Linked DNA regions of Homo sapiens: region 2 is linked to region 1. The links come from fine-mapping of genetic effects on gene expression. A gene starts in region 1. The other region holds a variant in brackets. All regions are shown on one strand. Distances are from middle to middle.

Region 1 (5,390 bases):
TATATATTATGTATTGAGAAAACTGGAAACTTAGTGACCACAATAGTTCCAACTATAGCTAACAAAATTGTCATTAGTACTAATGATATTACCTTATAAATCCACTGATGAACTGTTTTCTCATTTAATTCATTCATTAAACAAAACATCATTAAGTTCCTATCATGTACTTGGTACTATTTTAGGCCAGGGAATCCATTGGTGAATCACGTGAAGGAAACAAAAAGGATACACCAATTTTCTAAAACAGGGGGCTAGAGAAGCAGTAGAGAGTAGTAATTAAAGAGATGGACTCTGGAGCCAGACTTTCTGTGTTCAAGTCCTGGCTCCACAACTCATTAACTGCATGCTCTAGGACAAGTTACTTAACCTTTCTGTATTATTTCCCCATAGTAAAATGGAGATAATAATAGCAATTACCTAACAAACAGAGTAGTTTTAAGGATTAAAAGAGTTAACACACAAAGCACTAAGAACAGTACGTAGTGAGTATTTATAAATATCATCACAGAATTTTCCTCTAAAGACTTTAATAGCCTGTGGTTTTCTATTTACATTTCTGTTGCTCTGTATTAGGCCATGAAGCGCTCTTGAGAACAGTCTGTCTTTGATATGGATTTGCATTTCCACAAAAAGTATTTGTTGAATGAAGGAAGGTTAGGGTATAAAGTATGAACAGATACTACTTCAATGAACAGCAAACTAGGATAAGAAAAGGGGGGCTGAAGAGAGTGAAGATCACTATCTATTAAGTTTAACTTCCCATAAGGTCACCTATATGGTTAGAATAATGCAGTCAATTTTAGTAGCTACTTAAAAACATGTTCACAGTATCACAGTCCTTAGTGAAGGGGTTGTGGCCACCTAATGAACAGTTAATTCCACCTCAGCAGTTTTCTTCTGTGTCTTTGGGGAAATTACTTTCCCAGGTAGGTAATTCCATCTTATTAATGGTAGTATGAGGCTTAGTGTTTGAATGTCTGAAGATGAAACAGAGAAAGAAAAGTCCATGTATGGTTCTTTCTGCTCTTCTGCAACATTGCAGTTGAAAAGCAGGAGGGTGGGAGAGTCCTGCTGACTTTCACAATGTTATAGTGTGAACATAGGTTACTATTCTTTGCTCAGATATCTGGGCAGTGTGCCAAGGTCCAAAAAAGGAACGTCTTTGCTCTTAGCAGGGCACCAATGACTTTCCTGCAGATGCAGGCTCTGTGCTAACTTCTCAGCTATAAAGATTGAATTTAAGTGTCTGTTATTCCACAGACAGAGCCACATATTTCTTTTTCACTTTCAAATTTATATATATTTCTAAATTACATGTATTTCTATAACACAAAAAACTAAGCAGTACCATTTAGATTCCTTCATACAGTTTATTTTGCTGTCACTCCCTACAGACAACAAGCAAAGAATCCTCCGCTTTGAATGAGCTTACAGAAGAAGGCTCTTTTCTAACTCTGTCCATTCACACACCCTCCTGAGGGGGCAGGGAAATTGAGTCATGTGTGAGTTTGCTGTCAGTTCCAGCAAACTGCCAGACAAATTCTTCCTCATGTTCTGTCTCTGTGTTATCTGGCACCCCAGTGACCTTCCAACGGTGGGGCCTTGCTAGGGAAACTAGCTAAGAATCTGGGGCCCAAAATCTCTGTGACCTTGGGAAAATTATCTGACCTCACCAGACTACATTATAAGAGTAGATAATATAATCTCCAAATTCCCTTTTAATTCTACAATTCCAGTATTTTGAATGGCAAGGAATAAAGCTATCAAGTAATCTACATGCTGATAACATATTTGAGTTTGTATATGCAGTATGAACTGGTAACTTCATCCGGAATCTCAGCTAGTAAAAATAAGTTTTCAGGGAGTTGAGTACACTGTCTCTCCCCCGCTGCGAGACCTCACTGCGGTGGTCCCTATAAAAATAAAAATTCAGAAAGACTTGGTAAGTGTAAGACACAATATAGAAAAATGGCAAGAGTGTGAGACTCTTGGAGCAAATCACATTCTCTTTGGGTCTCGATAAACTCCATTTTAAGATCTGAAGTGGGGAGATTCGTCAAGATGACCTTTAAAAGATCCCATTCAGTTCTAAAAGCAAAAAGTCCAAGGTTATCAGATAATAAGTACCTCTGCTTTCTAGCTAAGGTTATTAGGACAGAAACTACCGAAACCATAATTTAAATGACTAATTATGTGACAAAACATTTAGGAAACCTAGGTTTAACACCTACTGGAAATTAGTAGCTGTCTCCACTGGCCCCGTTAGACAGGCAGAGAGAGTAATGCCCTTGCCTTGAAAACGTGTCTTTTCAGGTTCTGGGAAATTTCCAATTCATTCAAACATTTCTCCACATTCTCCAGCCGTTTTAGTATTTTGCAGATAAAGTAGGAAAAACAGTCGCAACTATAAATACAAGCCATTGTATTGATAGTATGAAGCGATTTCTCTGAGTTTGATGACAAATGTCACCTTCAAGCAGTACGCAGATTATTCCTACGCCAGAGTTCCTTCACCAACTCTCCCCCTCCCCCTCTCTTTCAGCAGAGACAAGCGATGGAGATGCAGGTTACCCAGGTCTTCCATGACAAAATGGTTACTCTGTTACATTTAAGAGAGGTGCTTCTGGAATTCACAATATACAGTTCAATAAAGAATATTTGCAGTAGTTATTTAGTTAGTGATGCTGTCACTTCAATATATCCTGGCATTACAAAAAAGGTCAATGAACGGGTTCCAAATAACATTTTGAGAAATTAGATATGGCGGAAACACGTCTGCTGCAAACGCAGATCGTAATCTGGAGCACCTGGTAAATACTACCTTTCCAGCTTTTTGCTTTCAAGGTCCCTGTGACAAAAGCCGTTATAAACACTGTGGGCAAATGAGGAGAAAAAGGGGTTAGGACCCAACCTTTCCCTCCCATCGCAAACCTTATCGTCCTTATCAAACACCGTAACGTCCTTTGGAAAATAGCTGCAGCGTCGCATTTTGTCCTCCCGTCATGCAGCAGGATTAAGATCGCTCCTCTCCCAGGACAACTACTTCTCCAGAGTCCTCCTAAGAGCGCCCCATACCCCGCAAGGTGGAAATCAATCCCTTCCCATTACTGGGTCACTGCGGCAATCCCCAGAAGATGAGTCCGAGCTTGCCAAAGGGCGCGAAGGACAGTGCCTTGCACAGCTGCCTCCCAAAAGTCCCTAAAGTGCAAGAAACCCCACTCAAGGGCGCGAGGGCCAGAGGTGGGCAGGAACCCGGGGCCCACACTCACCATGATTGAAAACTGCGGGGACAATTTCAACAACTGCAAAATGAGCCTCAGAGAGTCAGGTCACCTCTACCGCGGAACTGACTCGGAGAGGGCGAGCGGTGTTAGCGAGAAAAGGCTCCGCTCCCGACGCGGCGCTCTCTGGGAACTGTAGTTTACGCTGCCCTGGTTGTGGCGCAATCTCCAAAGCATTTCCTTCAAGTGTTGAACTACACTTCCCGATACCAGAGGTTTTTTTCAAGCTCTTCTCACTGCGCTCTGCGCCGATTGCAAAGTAGTCCCTGAGGATGAGCCCCTGTGATTGGAGGACGACAACAAACGGATGGTTTGGGCTCAGGAGGAAAGGACCTGCCTGATGGAGCCCGGCAATTGGCGGGAGAGATAGCGTGTGTAACTCTAGGGAGGGGAGAATCACCCCTTAGCGACATCACCCCCACGCGCGTGACTGAGACTGCATCCTCCCATGAGGGTAAACGTGGGAGGTAAAGAGACCTTCCGCTGCGTAAAGCTGGATCGACCCGGAAACAAAATCTTTTAAAAAACGATTGACACTCTGGAGGGGCGGGGGAATTGATAAGTTGGGACGACCGGACAGCTTCTCAGGTTGCTAAGCGACGAGGCGGGAGCGCACGCACACCCTGGCTGCTTTGTAGCACCTGAGGAAACTGTGGCGGCGGCGGCGGCGTCCTGGAGACCCAAGAGACCAAGCGAGCGTGTCGCTCCCTCTCGGGTCCGAGGACCTAGCCTAGGAACCTTCTGCCCGGGGTAGTGTCTGGTGATGAGGCGAGAGTTTTGCTGGGACGCCTACTCCAAAGCGGCCGGGAGTCGCGCTTCTTCCCCACTCCCGAGACAGGTGAGCCCTGGCCCGAGGGCAAGGGGTTTTCTTTTAACCTTAGGATCCGGAATGCGGTTGGTGCGCCGTCCCGCTTTGCTTTTATCCGCTGTGCGGATGCCTGCAAGCTCGCCGGTCCCTTTTCTGAGCGGAGTATGAGGGCTGTGGGAATGCAGCTATTTTGGAGGGGGTGGTGCCCTGGAGTAGGTGCACCCCCGACCCCAAATGGAGCTCTTCCAGAGTTATATCAAAAATATTTATTGAGCATTTACTTTGTAGGAGGTGAGCCTCTCCCTTCCAGGAGGTCACAGTATACGGTTCTAATTTGCTCTAAGCCCTCCGTGAATGTTGAGTTTTGTCCATTCCCTTTTGGAAGAAACAGGATGCGCCTTAAACCATCTTGAGTCTTAAAGTTATGCCAAACAGGCATTTCTAAGGAAAGACTGGCGACTGAAGGGGAGACACTGGTTGTTTAGTCAGTCAGTCTCAGCTGGTAAAACAACTTAAGAGGTTCTCTTTAAAATTAATGCTGCCAAGAGAATTGCTGTGCTTTTTGAAAGCTTGTTTCTTGTGGATGTTAAAAGGAAGATATGATGCTCGGGAGTAGCATACACAGCATATACGTAATGAAAATGAATAAAACATCTCTATTAGATAACATTGTTAGAACTTCCGTTTTTTCTCTGTCACTGATAAATGAATGCCAAGTAATATCTTTCAATTTTTCTCTATTTCAGTTTGGAGGATTTGCTATTTTTGGAAAGAAATGTAATGCTTTACTTTTAGCATTTATTAATATCATACCTGAATGACTCTCCTTGTATCTCTTTATTCATTTGGCTCTCAGACAACATACTTTCCTGGTTTTCCTCTTTTGTTACTGGTTCTCAGTTCTGCGGAGTTTCTAAATTTTTTTTAGTTGTGATCTCTTAACATTGGGGTGCCTGTATTCTCTGTCTATACTAAATCCCTCAGTGAGCTAATTCATAAGTTGCATCACTTCAAATGCTACTTTTAATGTCAAAAACTCTCAAATTTATGTGTCTAGTCCTGAATTAGTAGGTGTGCATTATTCTCAAACCTAGGTTCTCTGAGTTTTACTTTTTACTCTGAGCAGTTACGAAAAATTTCTTCCATTATCCTCCTAAATGAATTCTTCTACTAGCTGCTAACAGAAAGATTTTTCCATGTTGTTGTCCTTAAAAATATCATGATTTTACCTAATGTAAATGACGAGTTAATGGGTGCAGTACACCAACATGGCATGTATACGTACATATGTAACAAAC
Region 2 (5,377 bases), 150 kb after region 1:
TGCAAACACAACAAGTAATTGCTTGTAATAGCGTACTTACACCCCCTGGGACCAATACAAGTTTCGACTAATATTTAATATCAAAGTTTTTTTCTTGTCAACTGTTAAGCTTATATTCTGAGTTGTTTTTTACTTTTTCCTTAAAAGAAGTGAACATTTTTTCAAAATAGGGTTTTGTTTTCATTCTTTCAAAATTATTTCTCTATAACTGGCACTTCAAATATATATTTTATTTCCAAATGAATTTTGAATAAATAACACAAATATATCAACACAACCACCAGTACACAATTGATGCTTTGGCTCTCATAGGAAGATTCTTTGTTCCTAAAGTCTTAGAGAGATTTTGGGCTATATTTTCTAAATAGTAAAGACCAATGCCTAATATACTGGACAGTCAGGTCCTATTAAGTGACATCTCAATCAGTCTGTAATTGGTACAAAGCACATAAGAAAAAGATATTAAGCCAGTTATTGAATAGGAAGGATACTGACATTTATTGAACCAAAAGGCTCTATATGCTGGGTTCCTAACCTACCTATTTAATACAAGAAAACAATTGTATAAGGTATAGTTATTTCCATTTTTACACATAAGGAAACGAAGCTGAGCTACTAAGGAACATGTCCAGAGTCATATAGCTAGAAAGTGACTGAGCTAAGATTTGAATACAGGTTCGGGCTGTGAAGCCCATTTTCCTTTCACTATACTGTTCTGACTCCTGAATTTTTAAAGATTATATTCTTTTATTCAAGGTAAAAAGGTTGAGAAACATTGTATTATCATGAAAGATTGAAAATGGTCAGTATCTTAAATTTAGTAATCAAAGGAAGTATGTCCTAGTGGAAAGGACAGAGGTGAGAATAAAGAAATCTTCCGTCTGCTGTGTTCTCTCACTAGCTACCTCTGAATAAATCAGACACAATCACATCATCTTGAAGAAAAGAACTCTGCAGGATGGCCATAATTAGCAACATTACTGATAGTAATAAGCTGGGGGTAGGATTGTAAGCATGCCATTTTCCCTTCCTTACAGGAGTAAGGTGCTGAGGAAGCTTCCCTGTAGAAGAGGTTCCATTTTCATATGTCTAATAATTGACCCCTTCATTGGTACTGCAAATAAAATACTGGCTGTGATGATTTTGTTATATTGATGCTCCTCAATGAGAATTAAAAGGAAACTTTCAGCACAATTCGTGTCTCTGAGTTATCCTTTTTCATGTATTTCTTTTATTTGTACCCAAAATAATACACTCTCATGGGAACATGGTAACAATGTGATTTCTTGGCAGTTCTCCAGATTCTCTTGTAATTGTGTAGATCCACTGTTGGTCACTGTTTGTATGGTCAGGGGTGTGAAAGTAAAGGAAAATGTATAAAACATTTAATAATTTCTTTATGCTAGGAACAATGCAAAACATTTCTCAAATTCCTGTAACATGTTTTTATCAATAATTTTATGTAACATTAATAGCCCTTTATATAATCCACAAATATTAGTTATTTACCTACTTGTGTGCTTTGGTGACAAAGCTGTAGAAATATTGTGCTAATTTTCATTATTAGATATTAATTTATGTAATGTACATATTGGTCATAATATGCTTTATTTCATCCAGCTTGTATACCCCTAAAAGAAGATTCACTGATGAAAATTTTTTAAATAAATAGACTGGTAGAGAACACTGATCAGTATCCCCTAATAAATCCACTTTATCCTCGGATGGTTTCTATCATGTAAACATAGGATTAAACTCTTAGCACAAATAAAATGGAATGTTTTCGTCTCTACATTCAGGTGCGAAATAGTTTTTTAAAAATACCTTTATAGCCCTGTTTCTAAATACATCTCATCCATTGGTGGTCCCCAAATATCAGTGTATATTGAAATAGTCACAGGAAAAAAAATCACATATGATTAGATTGACAATTATTGTTTATTCCTAATATCTTTAATATTTTTATAAAATGCTATAATGATATTCAAGAGACTTTAGTGATTTCAGTTAATATGTATGTTTGAAAATAGCTTTTTGTAACATATCAGTGGAAAAATCTATTCATTATTTTATTCTAACTTGGTAATATCTAATTATGTTTTTTAGCTCTTCTCACAGACAGTTTTATCATCTTATCATTTTTGGCACAAAACAAACTATGTTTTATTCAGTTTACCAAGAAGATGGAGTCTTCTGATGTAAACAAAAGACTGGAAAAACTCTCAGCCTTGGATTATAAGGTAGAGATTTTGATTTATATAGTCATATTATTAATTATTAAGGTATATGAGAGTATCACATAAGTTGGTATTCTGCTCATTATTCTTCAACATTTCTGGATTTCAGAAAAACTGGAAATATTACAGGATTAAGCTTAATTAACTGTAAACAGTGGCCATCCTAAGTTTTCTTTTATACTCTCACTATGGGGGGTTGTCTAACAATGGCACGTTTGGAGCAATTTATATAGTATTTATAGACATCAAAGACAGATAATAGAGGCAAGTTACACTTTTGAAAATGGTTTTCGTGCCAGTGGTAGTATATATACCATTCTCATTTTCCCCTAAGACCCCATATCATCTTTCTAGGGTAGGATAGCTTTCTAGGGTAGGATACTTTCCACTTCACAAGAAAAGAAAGATGAAGGCACTTTGAAAGGTTAATAGAAAAGTGTAATAAACAAGGAGGGGGAAGAACCCTCCCCCTCCAGCTATAACTGGACAAAATGCAAAAAGAAATCTTCATGTGTTAGTATCTCACCCTTCACTAATTCCAGGTAATTTGTTTCCTTCCTGTATCAGGAGCTTTACATCTATTAAGGCAGAATTTTTATTTTAAGTGATGTGTTTAATTTGAGTTTTGCCACATTACATTTTAACTGCTGGGAA[G/A]GCATATTCTCTGCTAGGATGAGTAATACATTTTCCAGGCTGTTTCAGTTCAAGGCCTCTTTTCAACAGTGACTTGTGTTTGCAAGATTGATCCAACCTCTATGATGTGGATTTGAGACAGTTCACTGTTCACTGGGAACAGAGCTGATATACAGCTTCCTTAAAAAAGATGCACACTTATGCCATACCTAGAGCATCTGTAGCAAGAGCAAAGAGTTTGAGAAGCTAGCTCTGTAGCTTGAAATGTGTGTGTGTTTTTGGCAAAGTAGTATTTAACCTAACCTTTTGCCCTTTGGGATTATTACTTATGAATGAGGTGGTGGTAGCATGGGAGGATTTAGTTTTATTTAGTAGGAACATTTATTCTTAAAAAAAGATTTTTAATGTGGAATAAAATAAATGAGTTTTTCATTGTGGTGATAAACTACCATCTAGTTTCGTTTGCCAGCTTTGTGAAACTTCTATAAAACCTTAATATAGATTTTTTAAAACTGGAAATTAGTGCTACTTATTATATTTGGTTAGCCAAAACAAAAATGGTATTAGCATTCTTAAAGGGATGTTAGTTCTAGAATGGCTAACTTCAGATTTACTTGAAATACTGTTTATTTACTAAAATTGATCGGTCTTTAAAATGCACCAGTGTGCATTAACTCAAACCATTTAAAGTAAGTATATATAAAATTCTGGATGAGTAGTTTCTTTATCTTAGGTGTGATAGCTTGATAAAATCTTCTCAACTGAAGAGTAGTAGCTACCTGAGAACAGAGAGAAACTGTCAAGATGTCATCTTTTCTTATGAAAAGATGAGGAAAAGACATCTAGCGTTTGGGTCCTTAAACCTTAAGTAAGGGAATTACTTACTTGCTTATTCGAATATGCCTTTGGATTTAGGAAAATAGGAACATTGGCACTCCATGTCATTCCTATACATTAGAGAAGTAATCTGTTTCCCTTCGGAAAACTCATTAATTTCATTTCCTGGTTTAATATTTAAAATGTATATTTTTAATACTTAGTCAAATCTGCTATTTGTCCATTGGAAGGATATTTTAAGAAATTTGTTTATTTTACATTCCCTCTTGGTCATCATGACAGAATACTGATAATATTAAACTCATAGGAAACATGAAATTTCCTAACATTTCATAACGTAAGTGATTTGCATTATGTGACAACTGAAAATGTCAGTCACTCATTGTGACTCAATTTCCTCATCTAGAAATTCATAGGTAACACACTTATGCAGCAAATCAGACATTGAAATAATGTATGTGTATTTTTAAGTACTTAGCAATTTCATCGTGGTATTTCTCTCAAATAAGAAGACTTAATGATATTGAGAGCTTAAATATAAGAAATTACACTTAATAGCATAAAGTACATCTGTGTTGTCTGTCATTGCCCATTTGGATTTTAAAACAAGGAAGTGGTATAGAGTATTGTACTTTTGCTTTTCTTTACAGCTGTACCATAGTTTAATTCTTTCAGATTGACATAATTTTGGCAAAGAAAATTGCAGAGTAAACATCCTTAAACTATTGACCTTTAACAAGTTTTCCTGTCTACATCTGAAAAAAATCCAATTCAATTTATTTAACAGTGAAGGGACACTGTGAGGAGTTAAATGTTTACCATGAGAGAACAACACTGGTAATTACTTTGATTTCAGTTCCTTTTGATGTGCATTCAGAGGATGAAGAGGTCAATAATATTATGGCCATGCAAATAGAAAAGGGTTCCTTTTGACCATATTGAAAAAAAATAGCAGAGGATTATTAAAGCATTAACCTTGGTTTTAATGGCCTTGGTTGAGTGGTGAGATCACAATTTGGATGAGCCTGATTATTTACTAAATACAATACATAAATGCAACGGGTTCTTAACACCCGTTGCACTCTGGCATTATCGCATTACTGCCATCCTTTGTTGCCTTGCAGACAGGAATATGAAAGCAATCTGTCATGTAGTGAGACTGGCTCCAGAAGCATTTCTCTGATAAGAAGACCCCCTGCCCTTTGCTAGTGTCTGGTCCAGTAGGCTTAGCCATGCGCTTAATCCCCAGAAAGTGGTTCGATTATTGCTGACCAGCAATGGCAAGATAGTTTTTTTTTTCTTCCAAGCTATCAACCTTCCATTAATTCCTTAAGCAGAAATACGGTGCAATCTATATTTCCTTGGCATGTGTCACACAGATGGTGCCGTGCTTATGTTTTCAAATAACCATGTTCCAAAATAACATAGTTTGAATAATAAATTCTACAAATCCTGCCTAAGAAAGAGAAGCATAATTCTCAGAAGCTGCATAAACTTTTATGCATGATGCTGTGGCTTATCCCTTTTATGCAGAATATATGTGTATACGTCGCATATATTCTTTAAAGAGATATTTGCCTCAAGTTGTTTTTCCTTTTTTTGTTGTCAGTCATTGTTAACACGTTATGTCTTAAACAGTAGTGAGACTCTCTTGGTCAGCAGTACTGAAC

Evidence for each region. PIP is the estimated chance that this variant, and not a neighbour inherited with it, causes the effect. A credible set is the group of variants that fine-mapping cannot tell apart.
Region 2: its variant is the best candidate, but not a certain one, in a credible set for the expression of MDH1 in lung (TOPMed, PIP 0.61).

The regions. Positions count from the first base shown.
Region 1 is chr2:63,586,929-63,592,318 of GRCh38, reverse strand. It overlaps MDH1 (malate dehydrogenase 1), which reads right to left and starts at 3,356. Exons shown (of 9, transcript NM_005917.4): 1 at 3,273-3,356. The coding sequence starts at 3,275. It overlaps WDPCP (WD repeat containing planar cell polarity effector), which reads left to right and starts at 3,842. Exons shown (of 18, transcript NM_015910.7): 1 at 3,842-4,122. The coding sequence starts at 4,048. RefSeq lists enhancers at 3,326-3,645, 4,157-4,677.
Region 2 is chr2:63,434,284-63,439,660 of GRCh38, reverse strand. It overlaps WDPCP (WD repeat containing planar cell polarity effector), which reads left to right. Exons shown (of 18, transcript NM_015910.7): 8 at 2,107-2,240. Among named protein-coding and RNA genes, the nearest start is that of WDPCP, 150 kb to the left of the region's middle. The variant G/A (reference allele first, on the strand shown) is at 2,892.